3 separate regions of the Homo sapiens genome follow, and regions 2 and 3 are each linked to region 1. Evidence: fine-mapped expression QTL. A gene starts in region 1. Each other region holds a variant in brackets. All regions are shown on one strand. Distances are between the middles of the regions. Region 1 holds the start of ACD (ACD shelterin complex subunit and telomerase recruitment factor). Region 2 overlaps CTCF (CCCTC-binding factor). Region 3 overlaps RANBP10 (RAN binding protein 10).

What was found. PIP is the estimated chance that this variant, and not a neighbour inherited with it, causes the effect.
Region 2: its variant is the best candidate, but not a certain one, in a credible set for the expression of ACD in whole blood (TOPMed, PIP 0.52).
Region 3: its variant is the best candidate, but not a certain one, in a credible set for the expression of ACD in whole blood (TOPMed, PIP 0.59).

Annotation. Positions count from the first base shown.
Region 1 is chr16:67,655,705-67,663,878 of GRCh38, forward strand. It overlaps ACD (ACD shelterin complex subunit and telomerase recruitment factor), which reads right to left and starts at 4,556. Exons shown (of 12, transcript NM_001082486.2): 1 at 4,418-4,556; 2 at 4,199-4,341; 3 at 3,998-4,091; 4 at 3,833-3,909; 5 at 3,671-3,715; 6 at 3,525-3,559; 7 at 3,224-3,375; 8 at 3,016-3,112; 9 at 2,851-2,937; 10 at 2,282-2,658; 11 at 2,058-2,149; 12 at 1,808-1,980. The coding sequence starts at 4,516. The coding sequence ends at 1,902. It overlaps CARMIL2 (capping protein regulator and myosin 1 linker 2), which reads left to right. Exons shown (of 38, transcript NM_001013838.3): 33 at 327-363; 34 at 524-595; 35 at 720-941; 36 at 1,097-1,177; 37 at 1,535-1,612; 38 at 1,702-1,865. The coding sequence ends at 1,814. It overlaps PARD6A (par-6 family cell polarity regulator alpha), which reads left to right and starts at 5,256. Exons shown (of 3, transcript NM_001037281.2): 1 at 5,256-5,397; 2 at 5,751-5,973; 3 at 6,192-7,070. The coding sequence starts at 5,335. The coding sequence ends at 6,943. ENKD1 (enkurin domain containing 1) reads right to left here. Exons shown (of 7, transcript NM_032140.3): 5 at 7,953-8,116; 6 at 7,716-7,852; 7 at 7,241-7,617. The coding sequence ends at 7,457. RefSeq lists an enhancer at 3,886-4,469 and silencers at 4,623-4,732, 5,043-5,522.
Region 2 is chr16:67,574,511-67,582,684 of GRCh38, forward strand. All of the region lies in intron 2 of CTCF (CCCTC-binding factor), which reads left to right. Among named protein-coding and RNA genes, the nearest start is that of CTCF, 16 kb to the left of the region's middle. The variant T/C (reference allele first, on the strand shown) is at 3,030.
Region 3 is chr16:67,793,013-67,801,186 of GRCh38, forward strand. All of the region lies in intron 2 of RANBP10 (RAN binding protein 10), which reads right to left. Among named protein-coding and RNA genes, the nearest start is that of RANBP10, 9.5 kb to the right of the region's middle. The variant ACT/A (reference allele first, on the strand shown) is at 4,789.

The DNA.
Region 1 (8,174 bases):
TGCCCATGGTTCTTCCCTGACTCTCCTCTGTGGGCCACCCTGCTAATGTCTCTCTCATTAGAGTCCCAAAGAACCCCAGCCCTCCATACCATCCATTCAATATCTTAAAAAACAAAAAACAAAAACAAACAAAAAACATGAAGTCGGCCTGAATTTAGAAATATTCAAGTGTGCAAAGAGTTCTAAGAGGGCTGTACTGGGTTTGCCATGTTCTTGTCCAGCCCATGGTGGGCATTCAGTGGCAGGATTATAAGAACAAGAACGAACAAAAGGCTAGGGTGTGGGGAGCGGGCAGGGCTGGAATCTGATTGCCCTGTTTCCTGCAGAGCAAAGATGGCGAGATCAAGAAAGCTGGCTCAGATGGTAAGTGGGACCCTGGGGTGTGGCAGTACATTTGCCAGGAGGTGTCCTTATAGACAGCCCCCAAGGCACTTGCTCTCCTTGGGGAGGAAGGGGAGAGGCCAGGTTTTTCTTCCCCTCACCTCCAAGGTCTGGTACCTGAGTCCCCAGCTCCGCCTTGCAGGTGACATTATGGACAGTTCCACGGAGGCCCCTCCCATCTCGATCAAGTCCCGCACCCACTCTGTGTCTGCTGGTGAGTGAGGGCCACTGTGTGTGTTGGTAGTGGGAGCAGGGACAGGCAGGAGTTGGGTCAGACTGTTGTTCAGACCTATCGCCAATGCCTGACCAGGTCTTGGCTGACACCTTTCTCCCTACAGACCCTTCCTGCAGACCTGGCCCAGGGAGCCAGGGGCCTGAGTCTGCCACCTGGAAGACACTGGGGCAGCAGTTGAATGCGGAGCTCAGGAGCCGTGGTTGGGGCCAACAGGATGGTCCAGGCCCTCCCTCCCCTGGTCAAAGCCCAAGTCCCTGCAGAACCAGCCCCTCCCCAGACAGCCTGGGCCTCCCAGAGGACCCTTGCTTGGGCCCCAGAAATGAAGGTAGGCAGGCACCTGATTCCCCACCCCAATCCTGGCCTCGGGGCTGGAGGAGTTCCTGCTGGGAACTCAGCTCCTCTAAGGACCCTGAGGGTGGGAGGCAAGGGCTGGAGTGGGGGCAGCTGTTGGAATACCCCTGATTCCCTGGCCTCCCTCAGATGGCCAGCTGAGGCCGAGGCCTCTCTCGGCAGGGCGGCGAGCAGTGTCTGTGCATGAGGACCAGCTCCAGGCCCCTGCTGGTGAGGGGAGACACCTCCACGTGTGCTTGAATGCAGGAGATGTGGGAGGGTGGGCTTCTGGGGCTCCCTTCATAGCTTTGGTCCTTGGAGGGAGCCACCAGTGTGTGAGGTCTCAAGAAATCAGGGAGCCAGAAGACCAGGTGCAAGGGTTTGACAGCAAGCCCTTCCAACTAGCACTGGCTCCACTTCCCGAAGAGCAGCCTCTGCCAGGGGTGAGGACGCAGGGACGGGGGATGCTCTGAAGGCAGCAGTGTGTGTGAGTGCATGCTTATGTGCACTGGAGGTGGAAGAGAGGGGCAGGGGATGGACAGACCCCAAGCCTTAGCAACCCACCCCAAGCCTTTCTGTGTCCCTTAGAACGGCCCCTGAGGCTGCAGCGCTCCCCCGTCCTCAAACGCAGGCCAAAACTCGAGGCACCTCCATCCCCAAGCCTAGGTAAGAGGGGGTCCAGGCCAGCTGGGAGGGTGGCAGGACTGCTTAGCCCAGCCCTGACCCTTCCTCTCTCTCCCTCCCTCCCCTCACAGGATCTGGCCTTGGAACCGAGCCTCTGCCCCCACAGCCCACAGAGCCCTCCAGCCCTGAGCGGAGCCCACCCTCCCCAGCCACAGACCAAAGAGGCGGCGGCCCCAATCCCTGATCCTCTCCTCTCCTGCCGCATGAGATTATTTTATTAAAAAACTCAAAGGAAGCAGAGTGTGGAGCGGTATCTGTCCTGCGTGACGTCTCACATCGGAGTTGGCTCAGACCCTGGCTGTGCATCCATCAGAAAGTGCAAGGCCCAGGCCATGAGCTGGGGAGGAAGCCTGGAAAGAAACCACCGCTGCAGGTCAATGGAGCCTGGGACTAGTGACCAAGAGTTGGGGCAGACCCAGGCACTCACCTGACAGCTTGGACCCGAGCACAGAGGGACGTGCAGGGTGGCTCATACTCATACTGGAAGGCAGAACCATCACGATGCCTCTTTGGGGGTTCCTGAAAGGGGTATGGTGTCTGGGGAAGAGCTAACAAGGACCCCAACCCCATCCAAGGCTACCCATGCTCCCTCCCAGCTCTACCTCAGGCCTTCCTTGTTCTACCCTCCAGCTGCAGAGGGGCTATGCTCACCCAGACAGAGCAGGGCTCCTGGGCTCCCCTGGTAGCTCCGGTCCTGGGAAAAGGCGGCCGATTCTTGCAGGGCAACCCTACAAACTCCTTGAACTCCAGGCTAGGTTTCTGGGGCCTGGTCACAAGAGCCTGGTGTGGACTGGGGACATGGCTACGGGGTGAGAGACTGGGAGTGCAGCTCTGGAGTGGGGAGCTGGGGGTACGGCTGGCGTGTGGGGACCTGGGGGTCAGGGTGGCAGGGGCTGAGCAGATGGCTGGTGAGGGCTGGGAGCTGCTTCTCTGCCCTGGGTCTGGAGCAGCCAAGGACAGGGCAGGCAGAAGGCTGATGCTGGTACCACTTTCCTCGGATGACATGTGGCCGGGTAAGGCCGGGGTTCCTGAGGAGGAGGGGACTTATTGTAGGCACAGCCCTCTCCGCTCAGGGCAGCTGAGTGGCCTGCGAGCTCAGACAGGACTGCAGGGACCGTGTTCATCCCCCACCCACCGTGCACCTTTCACAGCATCCTGCGCAGCCCGGGAACCTGACTGACAGGCGGCAGTGAGTGCCTGTGACCTGTGCATCACCTCACCTGAGGAACTGGGTGAGGAAGGAGGAGAGGCTATGAGGGTCAGAGATAGGTCCTGCAGAGCCGGGTCTGGTGGGGGCAGCTCAGGGCCTGGGGGGTTCAGGAAGTCTTATCAGCACTGTGGACCTGGGCCCCAGGTATCCCCCCAACCTCTCCAGTCCCCCTTACCCTGTGTCCTCTGACAGGGGCCTAGAGAGCTCAGAATTAGCTGGTCATTCTCAGAGATGCACAGCATTGAGCTGGGGACAGTGTACACAGCTTCTCCCTGTGGGACATGAACTCTGTAGGACAGGCCCGTTTACTCTCATGTCCTGTGGGATATGACCCTTGCCCAACTCCTCACCCTGACATCTCCCAAGCAAATCCCCAGACTGACCGTGGCCTTGCATCGTGAGGCAGCCCAGTGGGTGACAGGGGGTGCTGTGCAAGGGCCCTCCAGTGTCAGGCAGCTTTCAGCCAGGCACACGAGTGCCCCCTGATGCTCCTGGTCCTCCCGCATTTCATCCAGAAGCTGGGACAGTGATAGGCCTGGGGACAGGGGACCATGGGATGAGTCAAGGCTTAAAGGGGAGGACCAGGAGGGTGAGGGGGAAGACAGCTTATTGAGGAAGCATAAGGTTAAGGCTGGAGAGATCACTGCACAGCGTGTTAGGATCACTGGTCAAGCTCTACAGTACCTGCATTGGACGAGGTGGACTCTGAAAGGTGCTCCCTACAGGAAGAGAGTGGCCAGGACTCAGGAACCATGCTGAGGCCTGTCTACCTAGATACACCATCCCCTCACCAAACAACACGTGGCCCCCGAGCCCAACCCCAGACTCACTCAAGGCAGTCATAGAGCTTTTTCTGAACATCTAAGTCTTGGTTGCTAAGAAAAAGAGAAGGGTAGTTAATGGGGGCCCAAGCCCTCCTACCCCATAGGCGTCTGCCAGCGCCGGCCAGGCTGGGGTGGGGAGAGCTGCTGGAGGGCGGAGGCATCACTTACCAACCAGGCACCCGTAGCCGGGGCTGCTCCGTGGGCAGCAGGCTGAAGCGGTCCACCTGGAGATAGAACTCTGCGGGCTGGAGGAGTTCGGGGGGAAGGGGGGGTCTCAGAATCGTCACGAAGAGTCATGCCCGGTAACCCGCCCAAGGCAGTCTCACCACTCACCGCGCCGCCCTCAGCGACCTGGACATGAACCCCGCAGTCCTGCAGCAGCAGCAGCCGGCCCTCTGTCCCGCGGAAGCCGAACTCCTTCTCCTCCCTGCAACAAGCAGGATCCTCACTGCCGGGCCCACCTGAACACAAGGCCCGCCCACCTCGCGCTCTCCTGCCGGACTCCGACCTCCAGAGCCGCGCGGGGCCTCTCACCAGTCCGAGGTGTCCAGGGCCTCCCGCGTCACCAGGCATCGGACACTGTGGGTCCCGTCAGACACAAGCAGCGTGGCCCCGACGTCGGACGTATCAGGGGCGTGGGATGGGCCCGCGACCGCGGCCTCGGCGTCCTGTAGTACCTGACGGCGGCGAGCGGCGTCAATCCCACCACCCCGGGCCTCCGCCTCGGTCTCCGGGCCCTGAATGGGGGCTCACCTCAAGCAGCTGCCCGGCTCGTGGACTGGAGGGTGTCTCTGACCCCAGAATCAGCTCCCGAATCCAGGGCCGTAGGACCAGCCTCCCCGAACCTGCCATCCCCACGGCTACACCCAGCGGATGCAACGGGCCCGGGTTTCCCGCGGGCGCCCAGGCCCCGCCTTTCCTCGGAAGAGGAAGCTCCTTCGCTGGGCGGGGCCGGAGGAGGAGGCCCCGCCCACGTACACCCCGCGCCTGCGCACGAGGGCGTCCTGCTCGGGGGCCTGTGTGCAGACTCCCGCTGGTCCACCCCGCTGGTGCACGGGATGCTGGCCCGTTTACTCTCATCGCGGCGTCACTCTGACAGCGGCCAGGCATTTGGGCCGTTCGTCAAGATTCCTGTGGTACCGGTAGGGAACAGAACAAGGGCTGGTCCCGTCCCTGGAGAGGGTTCCAGGGCCGGAGGCTGAGGCCGAGTGCCGTCCGAGCGAGTTGACTCGAAACCATTTCAGCACCGTGTGACCCCCGAACGGTTCAGCACATATTTATTATGACTCAGTTTCCTCATCTACACAGTGCACGGTCTTGTAAGGCCAGTGGAAATAAGAGCACACACACAGCGCTAAATAAATGGTACTTCCTTCGCCCTCCCCTCGGATTGGCGGAGCCCTGCTCCCCAGACTCCGGGGGCGCGCGGACCTCAGCGTGATGACGCAAGAGCGGAGGACGGCTCCTCTCCATCCACGGCTCCGTTTCCTAGGAAACGTGGACTCCGCGTTCCACTCTGCGTCGCTGCCCCCTTGACGTCACGCTCCGGATGGGAAGGCGGGGCGTGTGCTACCGCCAGGGGCGGGGCGGCGCGGGCGGGCCGGCCGGGCTGTGCACCTGCGCCTCGGCGGGCCGCCTGGGGCACCGTCCCCGGCCCGCCCGGCCCCGCCATGGCCCGGCCGCAGAGGACTCCGGCGCGCAGTCCCGATAGCATCGTCGAGGTGAAGAGCAAAGTAAGGGCTCCTCCGGCCTCGGCCCTAGGCGCTCCCAATTCCCTCTTTCTCCCCTTCCCAGCTCCTTGGTCCCCGCCACCTCTTCCCTCTATCCTCCAAGTCCCATTCTGCTTTTCTGCTCGCCTTCCCCCATCCGTCTTCCTTCCTCCACTGCTGGTCTCCAGCTCTCTGTGGCCTGAGTACCTGGAGGGCGGTAAGAAGACCTTGGACAGCGTCCCTGGTACTGGAGCTGAGGTCTGGGCTTAAGGCTGCCGCAAAAGCGGCAGCCGCATCTTTCCCATTCCTGCCAGCCTGCGGTGAGAAAGGGGCGCAGGCTGTCCTGACTCCTCCTCTCCCCCAACCCCGACTTCCAGTTTGACGCCGAGTTCCGACGCTTCGCGCTGCCTCGCGCTTCGGTGAGCGGCTTCCAGGAGTTCTCGCGGTTGCTGCGGGCGGTGCACCAGATCCCGGGCCTGGACGTGCTACTTGGCTATACGGATGCTCATGGCGACCTGCTGCCCCTCACCAACGACGACAGCCTGCACCGGGCCCTGGCCAGCGGGCCCCCGCCACTGCGCCTACTGGTGCAGAAGCGGGGTGAGGAGGGGTACAGTGGGCAGCCTCTGTGGGGTAAGGTGTCTGTGGGGCAGGTCTACAAGGGTTAGTCCATGCCCAGGGTACCCAAGCGTCACCCTCTGCAGTCCCTGCCCTTGGCTTGACCTCTAAGTGGTAGGAAATAGCTACAGTGCCCCCTGTAAACAGCCCAAGTCGGGGAGCAGGTCTCTGATCTCAACATCCCCCCTCTTCTGCAGCAGAAGCTGACTCCAGCGGCCTGGCTTTTGCCTCCAACTCTCTGCAGCGGCGCAAGAAAGGGCTCTTGCTGCGGCCAGTGGCACCCCTGCGCACCCGGCCACCCTTGCTAATCAGCCTGCCCCAAGATTTCCGCCAGGTTTCCTCAGTCATAGACGTGGACCTACTGCCTGAGACCCACCGACGGGTGCGGCTGCACAAGCATGGTTCAGACCGCCCCCTGGGCTTCTACATCCGAGATGGCATGAGCGTGCGTGTGGCTCCCCAGGGCCTGGAGCGGGTTCCAGGAATCTTCATCTCCCGCCTGGTACGTGGGGGTCTGGCTGAGAGTACAGGGCTGCTGGCGGTCAGTGATGAGATCCTCGAGGTCAATGGCATTGAAGTAGCCGGGAAGACCTTGGACCAAGTGACGGACATGATGGTTGCCAACAGCCATAACCTCATTGTCACTGTCAAGCCCGCCAACCAGCGCAATAACGTGGTGCGAGGGGCATCTGGGCGTTTGACAGGTCCTCCCTCTGCAGGGCCTGGGCCTGCTGAGCCTGATAGTGACGATGACAGCAGTGACCTGGTCATTGAGAACCGCCAGCCTCCCAGTTCCAATGGGCTGTCTCAGGGGCCCCCGTGCTGGGACCTGCACCCTGGCTGCCGACATCCTGGTACCCGCAGCTCTCTGCCCTCCCTGGATGACCAGGAGCAGGCCAGTTCTGGCTGGGGGAGTCGCATTCGAGGAGATGGTAGTGGCTTCAGCCTCTGACAGTCAGGATGAAGCCCCATGCCACTCCACACTGCTGGGACATGGCAGGGACTTCACAGTGGGGGTTTTTAGCTGGCTCACAGGGCTCCCTCAGCCTGGGGAACATTAAAGGTTTTCTACAAATACAGTCATGGTCCTTGTGTGTCCCAGTTCCAGCCTCCTCCCTGGTCTCACCAGCTTGCCTTCTGCTCTGGACTAAGGCAGGAGTGACATTGGGGAGAACTTCCTGCAATCAAGCAGCAGGAGGGCCACCAGGCTTGGCATTTTTAGGGTAAGAAAAGCTCTTATGGAAACAAATCCTGTGTACAAAATGTTTAATTTTGACAAAGCAGTTAAAAGGCTAGGGTGGCCCTTCTGCAGCCACTGGTGACTGGGAAGAGTGCTCTAGGGACACTGGCCACCCCCCTGCTCCTGTCTTCAGACCTCTGCTCTGGGATTGGGTCCAACCCTGTCCTTTGCAGCCATGTGGCGATCCTCAGCATGGAGCTCCTTGCCACTGTCCCCCAAAGGGGCTCAGTCGTCCATCTTCACGAAGACTTTGGGCCGAGAAAAGATCTTGATGGCCTCCTCTACCTGCACCAGCTTCCGGTCCAGCTCAGCACGGTGGCTCTGGGCTCTCAGTGAGTCTGCCCCAGCAGGCAGCAGTACCAGCTCACGCAGCAGCTGGCTCTGGCCTACAGGGGGCCCGGGAACAGTGAGAACAGTGAGTGTTGGGCAGGGGTGCCCGGTCCCCAGTGGGGCCCCCCTCCAGCCTCCCTGCCCAGGTACTCACTCTGGAGCAGCTTGGTCAGTGTTTCCAGCCGCTGGTTCTCAGGCATGCGCGTGTGGCCTGGGGGCATGGCAGGGTCCGGCTGGCTCTGCTTGCGGGCCTCGGCCTCCCGCCGCCACAGGTCCCTGCGCTCCAACAAGCTGTGGGTACACAGGCTCAGAGTTGATGACCCGAGGGCAGAGGTTGGTTCCCACCCTCCACAGGTGTCCTTCACCCTGAGTGTCGGGCAGTGAGACCTACTAATGTGGCACATGGCCCTTCTGCGTGGCATTGTAGTGCTCCTGGGCCTGCCGCTGCTGCTCTAGCACTTGTGCCAGGACCTGCAGTGAGCAGGAATGCCTCCGGGGGGCTCTCTTGGCAGCTCGTGCATTGTGACGAATGAAGTCCACCCCCAGGCCTGGCTCCTGCAGGACACAGCAAGCGTGGGTGGGGGCAGACAGCATTATGTTGTGTCCCTGAACA
Region 2 (8,174 bases), 81 kb before region 1:
TTGGTATTTTTAGTAGAGATGGGGTTTTGCCATGTTGGCCAGGCTGGTCTCAAACTCCTGACCTCAGGTGATCCACCCAGTTCGGCCTCCCAAAGTGCTGGGATTACAGGCATGAACCACCACGCCCAGCCAAAAGCATCTTTTTTTTTTTTTTTTTTTTTTTTTTGAGATGGAGTCTTGCTCTGTTGCCCAGGCTGAAGTGCAGTGGTGCAATCTTGGCTCACTGCAAGCTCCGCATCCCAGGTTCACACCATTCTCCTGCCTCGGCCTCCCAAGTAGCTGAGACTACATGCGCCCACCACCACACCCAGCTAATTTTTGTATTTTTAGCAGAGACAGAGTTTCACCTTGTCAGCCAGGATGGTCTTGATCTCCTGACCTCTTGATCTGCCTGCCTCGGCCTCCCAAAGTGCTGGGATTACAGGCGTGAGCCACTGCGCCCAGCCAAAAGCATCTATTCTTAACTGTGTGTTTTACAATTACTAAGTATTGTTATTAACATATTGCTCTTAACATAAGTGGCATTTAAGAATTACATTTTTTCCATATGTCCTTGTGGATAGAGGAAAAAAAAAGAATTACATTTTCTTTAGTCACGCGTTGTGTTGCATGCCTGTAGTCCTAGCTATTCAGGAGGCTGAGGCCGGAGGATCGTCTGAGCTGAGAAGGTTGAGGTTGCAATGAGCCGTGGTCCCACCACTGCATTTCATTCAGCCTGGGTGACAGAGTAAGACCCTGTCTCAATAAACAAATAAGTAAGTAAGAATTAAGTTTTCTGAGGCTGGGCGTGGTGGCTCATGCTTATAATCCCAGCACTTTGGGAGGATGAATTTTATTTTAATCCCATTAGGACTCCAAGTCCTGGCCATGCAGCTTAATAGCTATATGGCCTTGGGCAGGGCAGTTCTATTAGAGGTGACTTCCTTGGGCTTCCCTTTCCTCTTTTTTTTTGAGAGATGGAGTCTCGCTCTGTCGCCAGGCTGGAGTGCAGTGGTGCAATCTCGGCTCACTGCAGCCTCTGCTTCCCGGGTTCAACCGATTCTCCTGCCTCAGCCTCCTGAATAGCTAGGACTACAGGTGCGCCACCATGTCTAGCTAATTTTTGTATTTTTAGTAGAGACGGGGTTTCACCATATTGGCTGGGCTGGTCTCAAACTCCTGACCTCAGGTGATCCGCCCACCTTGGCCTCCCAAAGTGCTGGGATTACAAGCGTGAGCCACCGCGCCCAGCCAAGTTGGTTATTGTATATATTTTGCATTAAACTGAACTTCGATGACCACCAGATAATACAAATGTTAATGAACTAAACGGAAATATTGTGCCATAGGAAAATGGGTTAGATTTATCAGAAAATCTGTTGAGCAGTAGAGAAGTGGGTAAGAAAACAAGGTCTCGTTGCATGTTGCAAGGGATATAAAACCCTAACCCATTTAAAAAGATGAATGTCAGCCTGGGCAACTTAGTGAGACCTTGTCTGTAAAAAAAAAAAAAAAAAAAAATGTAGCCAGGTGTGGTGGTGCACACCTGTAGTCTCAGCTACTTGGGAGGCTGAGATGGGAGGATCACCTGAGCCCAGGAGGTTAAGGCTGCATGCACTCTAGCCTGGGTGACAGAGTGAGACCCTGTCTTAAAAAAAAAAAAAAAAAAAAAACGGAAGGCTGTTAACCAGCAAAATGCTTATGAGAGAGGTTTTTTAATAGCATAATACCAAAAAGTTAATTATTATGGAATAAAAGTAAAGAAAATCCCAAACTAAAACCTGGCGTATAGCAGAAGCTCAATAAGTAATTATTTGGATGAATGAATGCCTAGGGAAAAAAGACTAAACAGACGTGGAAATCATCAGTCAAAACTAGTAGTGTGAGGGTAGTTTGGTTTGGGGGTCACTTTTTGTTGGTTTTGTATAGTTTGTGTAATTTTTTTTAATGCAAATACTTTTTTTCTTTTCTTAGATTAAAGCAGAATTACCAAAATCTGGCTATAAAAATATTTAACAATAGGTGACTGGTTAAATTATGATACATCCCTATAATAGAATGTTTTTTTTTTTTTTTTTTTTTGAGATGGTGTCTCCCTCTGTCACCTAGGCTGGAGTGCAGTGGCACGATCTCTGCTCACTGCAAACTCCGCCTCCCGGCTTCACACCATTCTCTTGCCTCAGCCTCCTGAGTAGCTAGAACCGCTAATTTTTTGTGTTTTTAGTAGAGATGGGGTTTCACCATGTTAGCCAGGATGGTCTGGATCTCCTGACCTCGTAATCCGCCTGCCTCTGCCTCCGAAAGTGCTGGGATTACAGGCGTGAGCCACCGTGCCTGGCCTTATAATAGAATGTTGTGTAGCCATTATGTATAAAAAATATGTTGAAATGGCAAGATATTTGAAACAAAGTACAAAGAAAGCAGATTATCAAACAATATGTATGGTATGATCTCGTGAGAGTAAGTATATGTATATATTGGGGAGGGGACTGCGAATTTGGATATAAGCCAGAATGTGTGTATAAAACCTATAGGTAGGTTTCTTTAAGCTTTCTCCTGTTGCCTGTATTGCATAATTTTTAAAGGAAAAGGGAATGCAGTACAGTAGGAAGTAGCACTGAAACTTTCTGATAAAGGTAATGAAATGGGCCGGGCGTGGTGGCTCACACCTGTAATCCCAGCACTTCGGGAGGCCGAGGTGGGCGGATCACGAGGTCAGGAGATCGACACCATCCTGGCTAACACAGTGAAACCCCGTTTCTACTAAAAATACAAAAATTAGCCAGGCATGGTGGCGGGCGCCTGTAGTCCCAGCTACTTGAGGAGGTTGAGGTGGGAGAATGGTGTGAACCTGGGAGGCTCTGTCTCAAAAAAAAAAAAAAAAAGGATAATGAAATGATAAAAGGTGTTTTTGCCTAGTTTACTTGGCAGTAATGTCTAGACTTCTTTTTTTTTTTTTATTTTTTGAGATGGAGTCTCGCTCTGTTGCCCAGGCTGGAGTGCAGTGGTGCGATATTGGCTCACTGCAAGCTCCGCCTCCCGGGTTCATG[T/C]CATTCCCCCGCCTCAGCCTCCTGAGTAGCTGGGACTACAGGCGCCTGCCACCACGCCTGCCTAATTTTTTTTTTTGTATTTTTTTTAGTAGAGACGGGATTTCACTGTGTTAGCCAGGATGGTCTCATCATCTCCTGACCTTGTGATCCGTCCACCTCGGCCTCCCAAAGTGCTGGGATTACAGGCGTGAGCCACCGCTCCCAGCCAGTCTAGACTTCTTGAGTGGAATCGAGAGGGCCACTGGAACAGTTATAGAAGTGCAGCCAGGAGGAGAGTAAGGCAGGAGGAAGCTCCTGCATCTGCCCAGCTGTTAGAGGGGATTGAGGTTGCAGAGGCAGTTCTTGCAGTGATCCTCACTTAAATTTGGTCTTAAACTTTGTTTAAATATTACCCAAGTAATGTTTAGTTTCATTCTTTGGAAGAGTCTAATGATTGTAGAATTACATTAGAACCTAAAGAATCCCTTAACTTTGTTTTCCCAGAGCTGAAGACTATTAATAGTCTGGTGTGTTGACTTTGCACTTTTATTAACAGGCATGTACATATAATACAACTTTTTAAACAAAATATAATTGTGCTATGGAAATTTTCTGTAACCACCACATTTAATGTAAGAACATGAGGGGGAAATACTTCAAACAGTGCAAAATGTTAATAATGAAAAGTAATCCTCAGTCTTGCCTCTGATCTCTCATTTTTCTTCCTCAGAGGCAATAAATACCAATTTCTGATGTATCCATCCAAAGAAAATTCTGCGTATATTCAAATGTATGAGTTTATGTATCTTTTTTTTTTTTTTTTTTTTTTTTTGAGACAGGGTTTTCACTCTGTTGCCCAGGCTGGAGTGAGACACGTGATCTTGGCTCACTGCAACCTCTACCTCCTGAGTTGAAGTGATTCTTGTGCCTCAGCCTCCCAAGTAGCTGAGATTACACACATGTGCGGCCATGCCCAGCGAATTTTTGTAGTTTTAGTAGAGATGGGATTTCACCGTGTTGGCCAGGCTGGTCTCGAACTCCTGGCCTCAAGTGTTCCACCCACCTCGGCCTCCCAAATTGCTGTGATTACAAGCATGAGCCAATGTGCCTGGCCAAGTTTATGTATCTTTTTAAAAAAGCACAAATAGGCCGGGCATGGTGTCTCACGCCTGTAATCTCAGCATTTTGGGAGGCCGAGGCAGGCGGATCACCTGAGGTCAGGAATTCGAGACCAGCCTGGCCAACATGGTGAAACCCCATCTCTACTAAAAATACAAAAATTAGCTGGGCGTGGTGGCAGGCGCCTGTAATCTCAGCTACTCAGGTGGCTGAGGCAGGAGAATCGCTTCAACCCGGGAAGTGGAGGTTGCAGTGAGCCGAGATTGCACCATTGCACTCCAGCCTGGGGGACAAGAGCAAGACTTCGTCTCAAAAATAAATAAATAAAAATAAAAGGCCGGGCGTGGTGGCTCACGCCTGTAATCCCAGCACTTTGGGAGGCCAAGGTGCGTGGATCACCTGAGGTCAGGAGTTCAAGACCAGCCTGACCAACATGGTGAAACCCCATCTCTACTAAAAATACAAAAATTAGCGGAGTGTGGTGGCACACGCCTGTAATCTCAGCTACTCGGGAGGCTGAGGCAGGAGAATCGCTTGAACCTGGGAGGTGGAGGTTGCAGTGAGCCGAGATCGCCATTGCACTCCAGCCTGGGCAACAAGAGTGAAACTCCGTCTCAAAATAAATAAATAAATAATAAAAATAAAAAATAAAGCACAAATAGTAGCTTACTATACACGTTGTTCTAGACGTTTGAGTTGTTTTCAATCTTTGTTTTTTTTTGTTTTTTTTTTATTTGAGACGGAGTCTTGCTGCTCTGTCACCTAGGCTGGAGTGCAGTGCCGTGATCTCGGCTCACTGCAATCCTTGCTTCTCAGGTTTAAGCGATTCTCTTGTCTCAGCCTCCCGAGTAGCTGGGATTATGGGCACATGCCACCATGCCCGGCTAATTTTTGTATTTTTAGTAGATACAGGGTTTCGTCATGTTGGCCAGGCTGGTCTCAAACTCCTGACCTCAGGTGATCCACCTGCCTCGGCCTCCCAATTGCCCTGGCCTCCCAACTGCCCAGGCTTCCTGAAGTGCTGGGATTACAGGTATGAGCCACCACGCCCAGCTTGTTTTTAATCTTTTGCCATTAGAGAAAAATACCCTAGTAGTAGATAGCCTTCTTATATACACATCTTTAGGCTCGTGTACTAGTGTAAACATAGAGAATTGCTTGTATATTCCTAGAAGAGGGAATGGCATGTACAAAGGCCCAGAGGCAGGAAAGGAAAGACCTAGAATGTTCTGGCTACTGAAAGAAGTTCAGTGTGATTAGAGGCGAGTATGTCAGGCTGGATGCAGATCTGCTGATAGGGCCCTGAAGCACTTGGTAGGCCATGTGAAAGAGTTTGGACTTTAAGAGTTTTCAGCATGGTGGTTTCAGAAGGGAAGTCTTCTTGCTGATAATGGATTTACATTTTAGAAATCCGTGGCCGCTGTGTGAAAAATGGTGGGTAATGGAGCAAGAGGGGAAGCAGGGAAACTGTTTAGAAGGCCATTGCATTGGTCCATGCAAGATGTAATGCTGTCCTGACTTAAGGTGGGATAACTGGGATTGCTGTTTGTCTAGTTTGTTAAATTATAATGATTATTTTAAATTAATTTAGAGACAGACTCTCGCTCTGTTGCCCAGGCTAGAGTGCTGTGGTGTGATCATAGCTCACTATAACCTTGAACTCCTGGCCTTAAGTGATCATCTGGCCTCAAGCTCCTGAGTAGCTAGGAGTGTAGGTGCGTATCACCAGGCCCAGCTAATTTTTTTTGTAAAGATGGGGTCTTACTGTGTTGCCCAGGCTGGCCTTCAACTCCTGGCCTCAAGCAATCCCCTCCTCCCAGGCCATCCAAGGTGTTGGGATTACAGGTGTGAGCCACCATGCCCAGCTTAGTTTTTTAATTATTTATGTATTTTATTTTTATTTTATTTATTTATGTATTTATTTATTTATTTATTATTTTTGAGACGAAGTCTCGCTCTTGTCCACCAGGCTGGAGTGCAGTGGCTCAATCTCAGCTCACTGCAGCCTCTGCTTCCCGGGTTCAAGTGATTCTCCTGCCTCGGCCTCCAGAGTAGCTGGGATTACAGGCGTGCACCACCACACTCGGCTAATTTTGTACTTTTAGTAGAGGCACCTGCCCCAACGCCTGGCCAAATTTTTTTTTTTTTTTTTTTTTTTAGTAGAGACAGGGATTCACCATGTTGGCCAGGCTGGTCTAGAACTCCTGACCTCAGGTGATCCACCCACGTCGGCCTCCCAAAGTGCTGGGATTACAGGCGTGAGCCACCGCACCAGGATTTACTTATTTTTTATTTATTTATTTATTTTTGAGATGGAATCTCGCTCTTTCGCCCACGCGGGAGTGCAGTGGCGCTATCTTGGCTCACTGCAAGCTCCACCTCCCGGGTTCACGCCATTCTCCTGCCTCAGCCTCCCGAGAAGCTGGGACTACAGGCACCCGCCACCGCACCCAGCTAATTTTTTGTGTTTTTAGTAGAGACGGGGTTTCACCGTGTTAGCCAGGATGGTCTCGATCTGCTGACCTCCTGATCCACCTGCCTCGGCCTCCCAGAGTGCTGGGATTACAGGCGTGAGCCACTGCACCTGGCCCGGCCTTACTTATTTTTAATTAGGTTGGAATCCTATTCTGCATCCTCCTTTGTAACCTTGCTGCGTGTTGTGAACGTTTTTCCTGTTAGATGATCTTTTTCTTTTTTTTTTTTTTGAGACAGTCTCACTCCGTCTCCCGTGCTGGAGTGCAGTGGCATGATCTAGGCTCACTGCTACCTCTGCCTCCTGGGGTCAAGTGATTCTTGTGCCTTAGCCTCCCAAGTAGCTGGGATTACAGACATGCTCCACTAGGCCTGGCTTATTTTATTTTATTTTTATTTTATTTATCTTTTTCAGACAGAGTCTTCCTCTGTTGTCCAGTCTGGAGTGTGGTGGCACGATCTTGGCTCGCTACAACCTCCGCCTCCCAGGTTCAAGCGATTCTCCTTCGTTAGCCTCCGGAGTAGATGGGATTACAGTCGTGCACCACCACACCCGGCTAATCATGTACTTTTAGTAGAGATGAGGTTTTATCACGTTGGCCAGGCTGGTCTAGAACTCCTGACCTCAGGTGATCCACCCACCTCGGCCTCCCAAAGTGTTGGGATTACAGACGTGAGCCATAGCACACAGCGCTAATTTTTGTGTTTTTAGTGGAGACAGCGTTTTGTCATGTTGACTGGGCTGATGTTGATCCACCTGCCTCAGCGTCCGAAAGTGCTGGGGTTACAGGTGTGAGCCACCTCACACAGCCTCTGTTAGATATCTTTTGTTGGCCGGGTGCAGTGGCTCATGCCTGTAATCCCAGCACTTTGGGAGGCCGAGGCTGGCGGATCACGAGGTCAGGAGATGGAGACCATCCTGGCTAATACGGTGAAACCCCGTCTCTACTAAAACAAAAAATTAGCTGGGTGTGGTGGTGGGCACCTGTAGTCCCAGCTACTGGGGAGGCTGAGGCAGGAGAATGGCATGAACGGAGCTTGCAGTGAGCCGAGATCGTGCCACTGCACTCCAGCCTGGGCCACAGAGCAAGACTCCGTCTCAAAAAAAAAAAAAAAAATCTTCTGTTACTTCAAATTAGTAGGAACTTTGTTGTTGGATGTTAAGTGGCATGTGTGCATGCTTTAGTTTTCTGAACTGTTCCTTTGGGCATAGCAGTCCTTGTTTGCCCTGACTTTTTGCCTCTAGTATGTTGTTTCTACCTATTCCTCATTAATTGAATTATTTCTAAAATACGAGCATTGGCCAGGCAGGGTGGCTCATGCCTGTAATCCCAGTACTTTGTGAGGCTGAGGCGAACGGATCGCTTGAGTTCAGGAGTTTAAGACCAGCTTGGGCGACATGATGAAACTCGGTCTCTACTAAAAATATAAAAATCAGCCGAATATGGTGGTGGGTGCCTGTAATCCCAGCTACTTGGGAGGCTCAGGCACAAGAATCACTTGAACCTGGGAGGCAGAGGTTGCAGTGAGCCGAGATCGCGCCACTGCACTCCATCCTGGGCAACAGAGTGAGAC
Region 3 (8,174 bases), 140 kb after region 1:
AGAGTCTCAAGTACCAAACCTTGACTTTCCAGAGCCTGCCACATTCAAAAACCCAAAGGCACTGCCCGTAACCGGAGGGTGTAGCCACTAATGCCCCAGCTTAATTTGAGAGAGTTCCCATTAGACCCCACAGGGGTCTAACCTCCACCTCTATGGCCCTGTGTAATTACGGAGCTGAAGCACACAAGCATAGCAGTGTGTGAACACCACAAATGTCCTTTGGTACACAGACACTACCCTTAACTCTAGTTACAGGTGTTCATCCAGACACTGGCCTTGAGTTGGCTGGCTTGTAATTTTTTTTTTTTTTTTTTTTTTTAGATGGAGTTTCACTTGTTTGACTGGCTGGAGCACAATGGCACGACCACGGCTCATTGCAACCTCCGCTTCCCAGGTTCAAGCAATTCTCCTGCCTCAGCCTCCCGAGTAGCTAGGATTACAGGTATACGCCACCATGCCTGGCTAATGTTTGTATTTTTAGTAGAGACAGGGTTTCACCATGTTGGTCACGCTGGTCTCAAACTCCTAACCTCAGGTGATCCGCCCACCTCAGCCTCCCAAAGTGCTGGGATTACAGGCGTGAGCCACCGTGCCCAGCCTCGCTTGTAATATTTTATCTGCCATCTTATTTTCAATCGGAGACATTATTTAAGTAGCCTAGTCCACCACTACATGAAAATTCTAAGTCTTGATAATTTTATAAGCATCAAAGTCCATATATTAAACCCCTTTCTACTGGAAATTTCTGGTTTCTGTTTTCTGCATTTGCTTCTACTAGTACTATGCACATAATGGCCATAAGCCTGCATTTGTTTAAACCTGCATCTCTCTATCCCTCTGCTATTTATTTTTATTTTTTATTTTATTTATTTATTTATTTATTTTTGAGACGAGTCTCACTCTCTCATCCACACTGGAATGCAGTAGCTCAATCATAGCTCACTGTAGCCTCAAACTCCTGGTTTCAAGCAATCCTCCTGCCTCAGCCTCCCAAGTAGCTAGGTCTACAGAAGTATTCTATCACACCCCGCTCATTTTTAAAAATGTTTCGTAGAGGTGGGGGTCTCACTATGTTGTCCAGGCTGGTCTTGAACCCCTAGGCTCAAGCAATCCTTCCGTCTTGGCCTTCCAAAGTGCTGGGACTGGTCGGGGTGGTGGCTCAAGCCTGTAATCCCAGCACTTTGAGGGGCCGAGGCGGGCAGATCACCTGAGATCAGCAGTTTGAGACCAGCCTGGCCAACATGGCGAAACCCCATCTCTACTAGAAATACAAAAATTAGCCAGGCATGGTGGTGCATGCCTGTAACCTCAGCTCTCAGGAGGCTGAGGCGGGAGAATTGCTTGAACTCAGGGGGCGGAGGTTGGAGTGAGCCGAGGTCATGCTGCTGCACTCCAGCCTGGGTGACACAGCGAGACTCCGTCTCAAAATAAAAAACGAGCCACCACACCCGGCCTGCTGTGTATTTTTTAAACGTAGACTTTATCAGGTATTAAAAAAATCCAACATATTCTTTTTTTTTTTTTTTTTGAGATGGAGTCTCACTCTGTCTCCCAGGCTGGAGTGCAGTGGCACGATCTCGGCTCACTATAACCTCCGCCTCCCAGGTTCAACCAATTCTCCTGCCTCAGCCTCCCGAAGAGCTGAGACTACAGGTGTGTGCCACCATGGCCAGCTAATTTTTTTGTATTTTTAGTAGAGACAGGGTTTCACCGTGTTAGCCAGGATGGTCTTGATCTCCTGACCTCATGATCCACCTGCCTCAGCCTCCCAAAGTGCTGGGATTACAGGCTTGAGCCACTGGGCCCAGCCTAAAAAAAATCCTACATATTCTTTAACAGTTAAAAAAAAAAATTTCAGGCCACTATCTTGCCACTGCACTCCAGCCTAGGTGACAAGAGTGAGACCCTGCCTCAAATTAAAAAAAAAAAAAAACAAAAAAAAAAAACAGCAACAAAAAAAGGCCAAGTACAGTGGCTCACACCTGTAATCCCAGTACTCCGGGAGGCCAAGACAGGCAGATCACTTAAGCCCAGGAAGATCACCCTGGGCAAGTGGTGAAATTCCATTTCTACTTAAAAAAAAAAAAATTAGCTGAGCATGATGGCATGTGCCTGTAGTCCCAGCTACTCAGGAGGCTGAGGTGGGAGAATCTCTTGAGCAGGAGGGGAGGTTGCAGAGCCATGATTGCAATACTGCACTCCAGCCTGGGCAACAGAGTGAGACCCCGCCTCAAAAAAATAAATAGGCTGGGTGCGGTGGTCCACACCTATAATCCCAGCACTTTGGGAGGCTGAGGTAGGAGGATGACCTAAGGTCGGGAGTTCAAGACCAGCCTGACCAACATGGAGAAACCCTGTCTTTACTAAAAATACAAAATTAGCCAGGCATGGTGGTGCACGCCTGTAATCCCAGCTACTCAGGAGGCTGAGGCAGGAGAATCGCTTGAACCCGGGAGGCGGAAGTTATGGTGAGCCAAGATCGTGCCATTGTACTCCAGCCTGGGCAACAAGAGTGAAACTCCGTCTCAAAATAAACAAACAAATAAAATAATTTTTTAAAAATAAAGGTTTTCGGCCGGGCGCGGTGGCTCACACCTGTAATCCCAGCACTTTGGGAGGCCGAGGCGGGTGGATCACGAGGTCAGGAGATCGAGACCACGGTGAAACCCCATCTCTACTAAAAATACAAAAAATTAGCCAGGTGCGGTGGCGGGCACCTGTAGTCCCAGCTACTCAGGAGGCTGAGGCAGGAGAGTGGCGTGAACCCGGAAAGTGGAGCTTGCAGTGAGCTGAGATCGCACCACTGCACTCCAGCCTGGGCGACAGAGTGAGACTCCGTCTCAAAAATAAACAAACAAACAAACAAACAAATGTTTTCTATACGTAAAATAAAAATATTTTGATTTTTTTTTTTTTTTTTTGGAGACAGAGCCTTACTCTGTTGCCCAGGCTGGAGTGCAGTGGCACAGTCTCAGCTCACTGCAACCTCCACCTCCCGCGTTCAAGTGATTCTCCTGACTCAGCCTCCTGAGTAGCTGGGATTACAGGCGCCTGCCACCATGCCCAGCTAATATTTTTTACTTTTAGTAGAGACAGGGTTTCGCCATGTCGGCCAGGCTGGTTTCAAACTCCTGACCTTGTGATCCGCCTGCCTCGGCCTCCCAAAGCGCTGGGATTACAGGTGTGAGCCACAGCACACAGCCTATTTTGATTTTTATAAAAGTAAATATAACTACTGACAAACTACTGGTGCAAGTTGTTATAAAAACAGGGCATTCCATTTTTTTAAAAAGTCCATGCCAATTTCAGATACATGGCTTTATAAACTGGGTTAGAATCAGTTCTACTCAGCAATCCAACCCCTCTGTTTCTTTCCTCTTGGTTCAGCTCTGCCTTGGGACTCTCCTTTAGAAGAAATAAGCTGAGCCCTCAACCATCTGGGCCTCTATCCACTTATCTTCCAACCACCTCCACCCTGAGGGCTAGTAGATTTCATCTCATGATGAAACTCTGACCAGTAAATTATAGCTGCCTGATGTGCTGTGCATTGAGAAAAATTCTGGGCTCTGTCTGGACAAGAACAAGTGCTACTGTCAATCAGTAATGTTGGTCATAGAAGCTGAGGGTATTGTGGGGTATTGGGGCCTTCACACTTGCCACCCCTGACCTAAACTAAACTCCCCTGAAACCCCAAGCATCTCTAATTCCAAGAGTTAAGTAACAAGAAATGGCATAAGAGGGGTGCCAAGGGCTTCCCCAGTCCCCTCCCAACTTCCCTATATAGTACAGAGCATCTTGTTCTGGCCCCTTCATGACAGAAGGGCTAGGCTCTGTTCCACCACCAAGTCACAACACCAACGATCCTAGAATTACAAAGACATTTTATATGGATTTTGAACAGAATGGAGAGGCAGAGGAACATCTTTGCATTTAGACATAATTATCCATCCCTCTTCCACTGATGAGTCCCTTCTTTCCAACTTGACCCGACCACACAAGACCCACTCTGGAGCCCTTTATTCCTTCCCAATGGTCCCATAATAGGAATGGCACACAGTGCCTGCCACATGGGGCTGCTAGGTTCATCCTCCTGTGCTCTGGCCTGATGAGCTTCTGCTTCTCTTCTAACAAGGAATCTCCCTTACACCATGACCCATACAGGGAAAAGACCAAAAGTTCCAGAGAACAAAAACACCATCAAGGCAGAAAGGCAGGAGGTGAAGTGAATTCTAGGAATTTCTCTAAAAGCTAATCCTTGACCAAGAAGGCCCCAGCTATAAAGAAGGCAACGACGCTCCCCACTCTCAGCTCACAGTTGGAGCCTGGGTAGCAACATACAGTGAGGAGGGAGGCCCTACCAGAAAAGTGGCCACAGGCCAGGTGTGGTGGCTCATGCCTGTAATCCCAGCACTTTGGGAGGCTGAGGCAGGAGGATTGATTGAGCGTAGGAGTTCCAGACCAGCCTAGGAAATATAGCAAGACCCTGTCTCTACAAAAAATTTAAAAATTAGCCAGGGCTGGGGATGGTGGCTCACACCCGTAGTCCCAGCACTTTGGGAGGCTGAGGTGGGCAGATCATTTGAGGTCAGGAGTTCAAAACCAGCCTGGCCAACATGGCAAAACCTCGTCTCTACTAAAAATACCAAAATTAGCCAGGTGTCATGGCACACGCCTGTAATCCCAGCTACTCAGGAGGCTGAGGCATGAGAATCACTTGAACCCTGGGAGGCGGAGGTTGCAGTGAGCCGAGATCACTCCACTGGACTCCAACCTGGGTGACAGAGCAAC[ACT/A]CTGTCTCAAAAAATAAATTAAATAAATAAAATAAAAATTAGCCAGGCATGATGGCATGCACCTGTAGTCCCAGCTACTCAAGAGTCTCAGGTAGGAAGATTGCTTGAACTCAGGAGGTCGAGGCTGCAGTGAGCCATGATTGTGCCACTGCACTCCAGCCTGAGTGACAGAGAGAGACCCTCTCTCAAAAAAAAAAAAAAAAAAAAAAGCAAAGAACAGTGGCCACCATCTAGACTCCAGTTCTCTTACCCCGTGTTCCAGAACCCAAACATCCTACCCTGTGTTCCAGAACCCAAACATTCCATGTCTCCACAAATAGCACAATGTGTTACCTGAGTAGAAGTGCAGCCCAAAGCTCAGCATCTGCCTGTAAGACCATCAACTCCGGGGGGCAGTAAGGGAAAATGGGGCACAACCACGGCCTGTACCTACCTTGGGCAAGGACAGCACCTTCTTATCAGGGCGGGCAGGACAACGCCTTCCCCAGATGACATATGAGCACCAAAGTTCTCAACAGCACTGTACAATGCATGTAGACTGGAACTTGGTGAGGGGATCCAGGGTGAGAAGCCAGCCACAGCTGTCTCTCAGCTGGAAGGGCCTAAGCTTAGATGGTCCTCCACACCAGGAATGTGGCAGGTGAGATCTTAATCAAGATATCTTAATTAACAGTGGCTCTCTAGGTCTCCATGGAAAATCACTTTGGCTGATTCTGGCTCACCAGAGGAGATGCTTGGGTATAAAACATGGGGCATTACTGTCTTTCAGATGGGAGCTGGCAAAACCAAAATACCAGAACTCCAGCACAAGCAGAGTCCTCTCACCTCTGAGAAGCCTCCTGGCTACCAGTCTTTCACACCCCATCCCTTCATCTCTTCATACCAAAGGAACAGCCAAGAGAAAAAAAGACAACCGCTATGAGAAAACCATGCTAGAGCCAAAGACCTAAAGTCACTGGCCCACCCTGGACAAGGGCTCTTGGCCAGAGAAGCCTGGCTGAACCAGACTGGCAGAGTCTCTTCTTTTCTTCACTCTCAAAAGCATGGGTAGATCCACAGCCCCCCACACTGCTACTGCCCTCAAGATACAGCCCACGCTCCCTGGCCACAGCATACAAGGTATTTTCTTTTTTATTTTTTTAAGACAGAGTCTCACTCTGTCACCCAGGCTGGAGAGCAGTGGCGTGATCTCGGCTCACTGCAACCTTCACCTCCCAGGTTCGAGTGATTCTCCTGCCTCAGCCTCCCAAGTAGCTGGGATTACAGGCATGCACCACCACTATTATTAGCGCCTGGCTAATTTTTGTATTTTTAGGAGAGATGGGGTTTCGCCATGTTGGCCAGGCTGTTCTCGAACTCCTGAACTCAAGTGACCTGCCCGCCTCAGTCTCCTAAAGTACTGGGATTACAGGCATGAGCCAGGCCACACACAAGGTATTTTCAGTCTGGCCCTACCGACCTCATGTTCTGCGCTCCACATCTCTTTTTTTTTTTTTTTTTTTTGAGACAGAGTCTCGCTCTGTTGCCCAGGCTGGAGTGCAGTGGCGCGATCTCGGCTCACTGCAAGCTCGGCCTCCCGGGTTCACGCCATTCTCCTGCCTCAGCCTCCCGAGTAGCTGGGACTACAGGCGCCCGCCACCATGCCTGGCTAATTTTTTGTATTTTTAGTAGAGACGGGGTTTCACCATGTTAGCCACGATGGTCTCGATCTCCTTACCTCGTGATCCGCCCGCCTTGGCCTCCCAAAGTGCCGGGAATACAGGTGTGAGCCACTGCGCCCGGCCAGCTCCATGTCTTTTTATGCACTGTTTCTTCTGCCTGAAGCATCTGCTTCTCACTTTGTTCACCTAGAACACTCTAACTCCTCTTTCCAGAGCCCACATCACCTCTTATATGATTCTATGATGTTTTCCTCAAACTCTGAGGTACAGTCCATCCTCCAGGCCACCCCTGGATATGACACATACGGTGGCCTGACCCTTCGACACCACCGGTGGGGCCTCATGCCTGTGCTCCTGGGGCCCAGGCTGGGACAAAACAATGGATGTGATGGCTCACACCTGTAATCCTAGCACTTTGGGAGGCTGAGGAGGGCAGATCATGAGGTCAAGAGATCTAGAACATCCTGGCCAACATGGTGAAACACCGTCTCTACTAAAAATACAAAAACTAGCTGGGCATGGTGGTGCACGCCTGTAGTCCCAGCTACTCGGGAGGGTGAGGCAGGGGAATCACTTGAACCCAGGAGGCGGAGGTTTGCAGTGAGCCAAGATTGTGCCACTGCACTCCAGCCTGGCAACAGAGCGAGACTCTGTTTCAAAAACAACAACAACAACAACAACCAAAAAAAAAAAACAATGGGTACTGCGCCCTGGTGTCTGGAATGAATGAATGAGTGCACTGCTGCCTGGCCAAAGGAAGTCAGCTGCAGGAGCAAGGGAAGGCTGGCTGTGGTCAGAGACCCCTGCTCTGGGCCTGGGCCCAGACACTGGCTACAGAGGAAAATGCCCCCACCCCTCTCCATGCCTTCCAGTGCTCTAGCCCAGGCCTACTACTCTTGGGTAAAGCAACCATCACATGTCAGGAGGCCTCCGCCGCTGGGATGATGTTACAGTCTATTTTGAGGGTCACACTGGAGCATCTGTCAGCCTAGCCAGCCACACCCTCCATGTGTCATCACTAAGAGCCAGGGACACCCACAGGTCCATGAACTCTGCCTGCAGACATTGCTCCTCCCCAGGGACCCTCAGCTTCAGGCCCTCCTTCGCTTCCTAGAAAGACAGACCTGGATGCCCCTTATCTCCTGGCACCACTGGCAGTGCTCTGATGTCTCCTCACCCCACCAGACCCGCTCCCCGAGTTCACAGCTCTGGTGACTCGGCAAAATGCAGTTGAAGCCCATCAGTCTGTGCCAAGCTCTTAGCTCAAACACAGCCCCTCCTACTCCACAGAGCTCTCTTATACTTGAGGAGTGCCCAGAAAGCCTAGCACCCAGAAGTCAAGCTAGTTACCCATCAGACTCATAGGTCTAACAGGTCTCGCCTACTGGGGAACTCCTACTCATTCCTCCCAACTGTTCCCAGGCTCTGCCTCCTCTTGCAGAAAGACTTTCAGTCCACTCTCTACTGAATGGGCCACAGGCTTCCTGAGGACAAAGCTGATCTGTGCTGGCTTTACATCTGTTCTCCCTATACCTAGTATAGGGCCTGGAACATAGTAGGTATATATAAATATTCTGTGAAATCTTGACATGAAACTTTCCTTATTAGACTAGCTTAGTGTGTTCTTCTCCAAAAGATATTGTCAAAACAAAGGACGTTCTGGAGAACAATGACACTAACAACTGGGTTTATAAATACCTTTTACAAAGGAGGTGTACTCAAA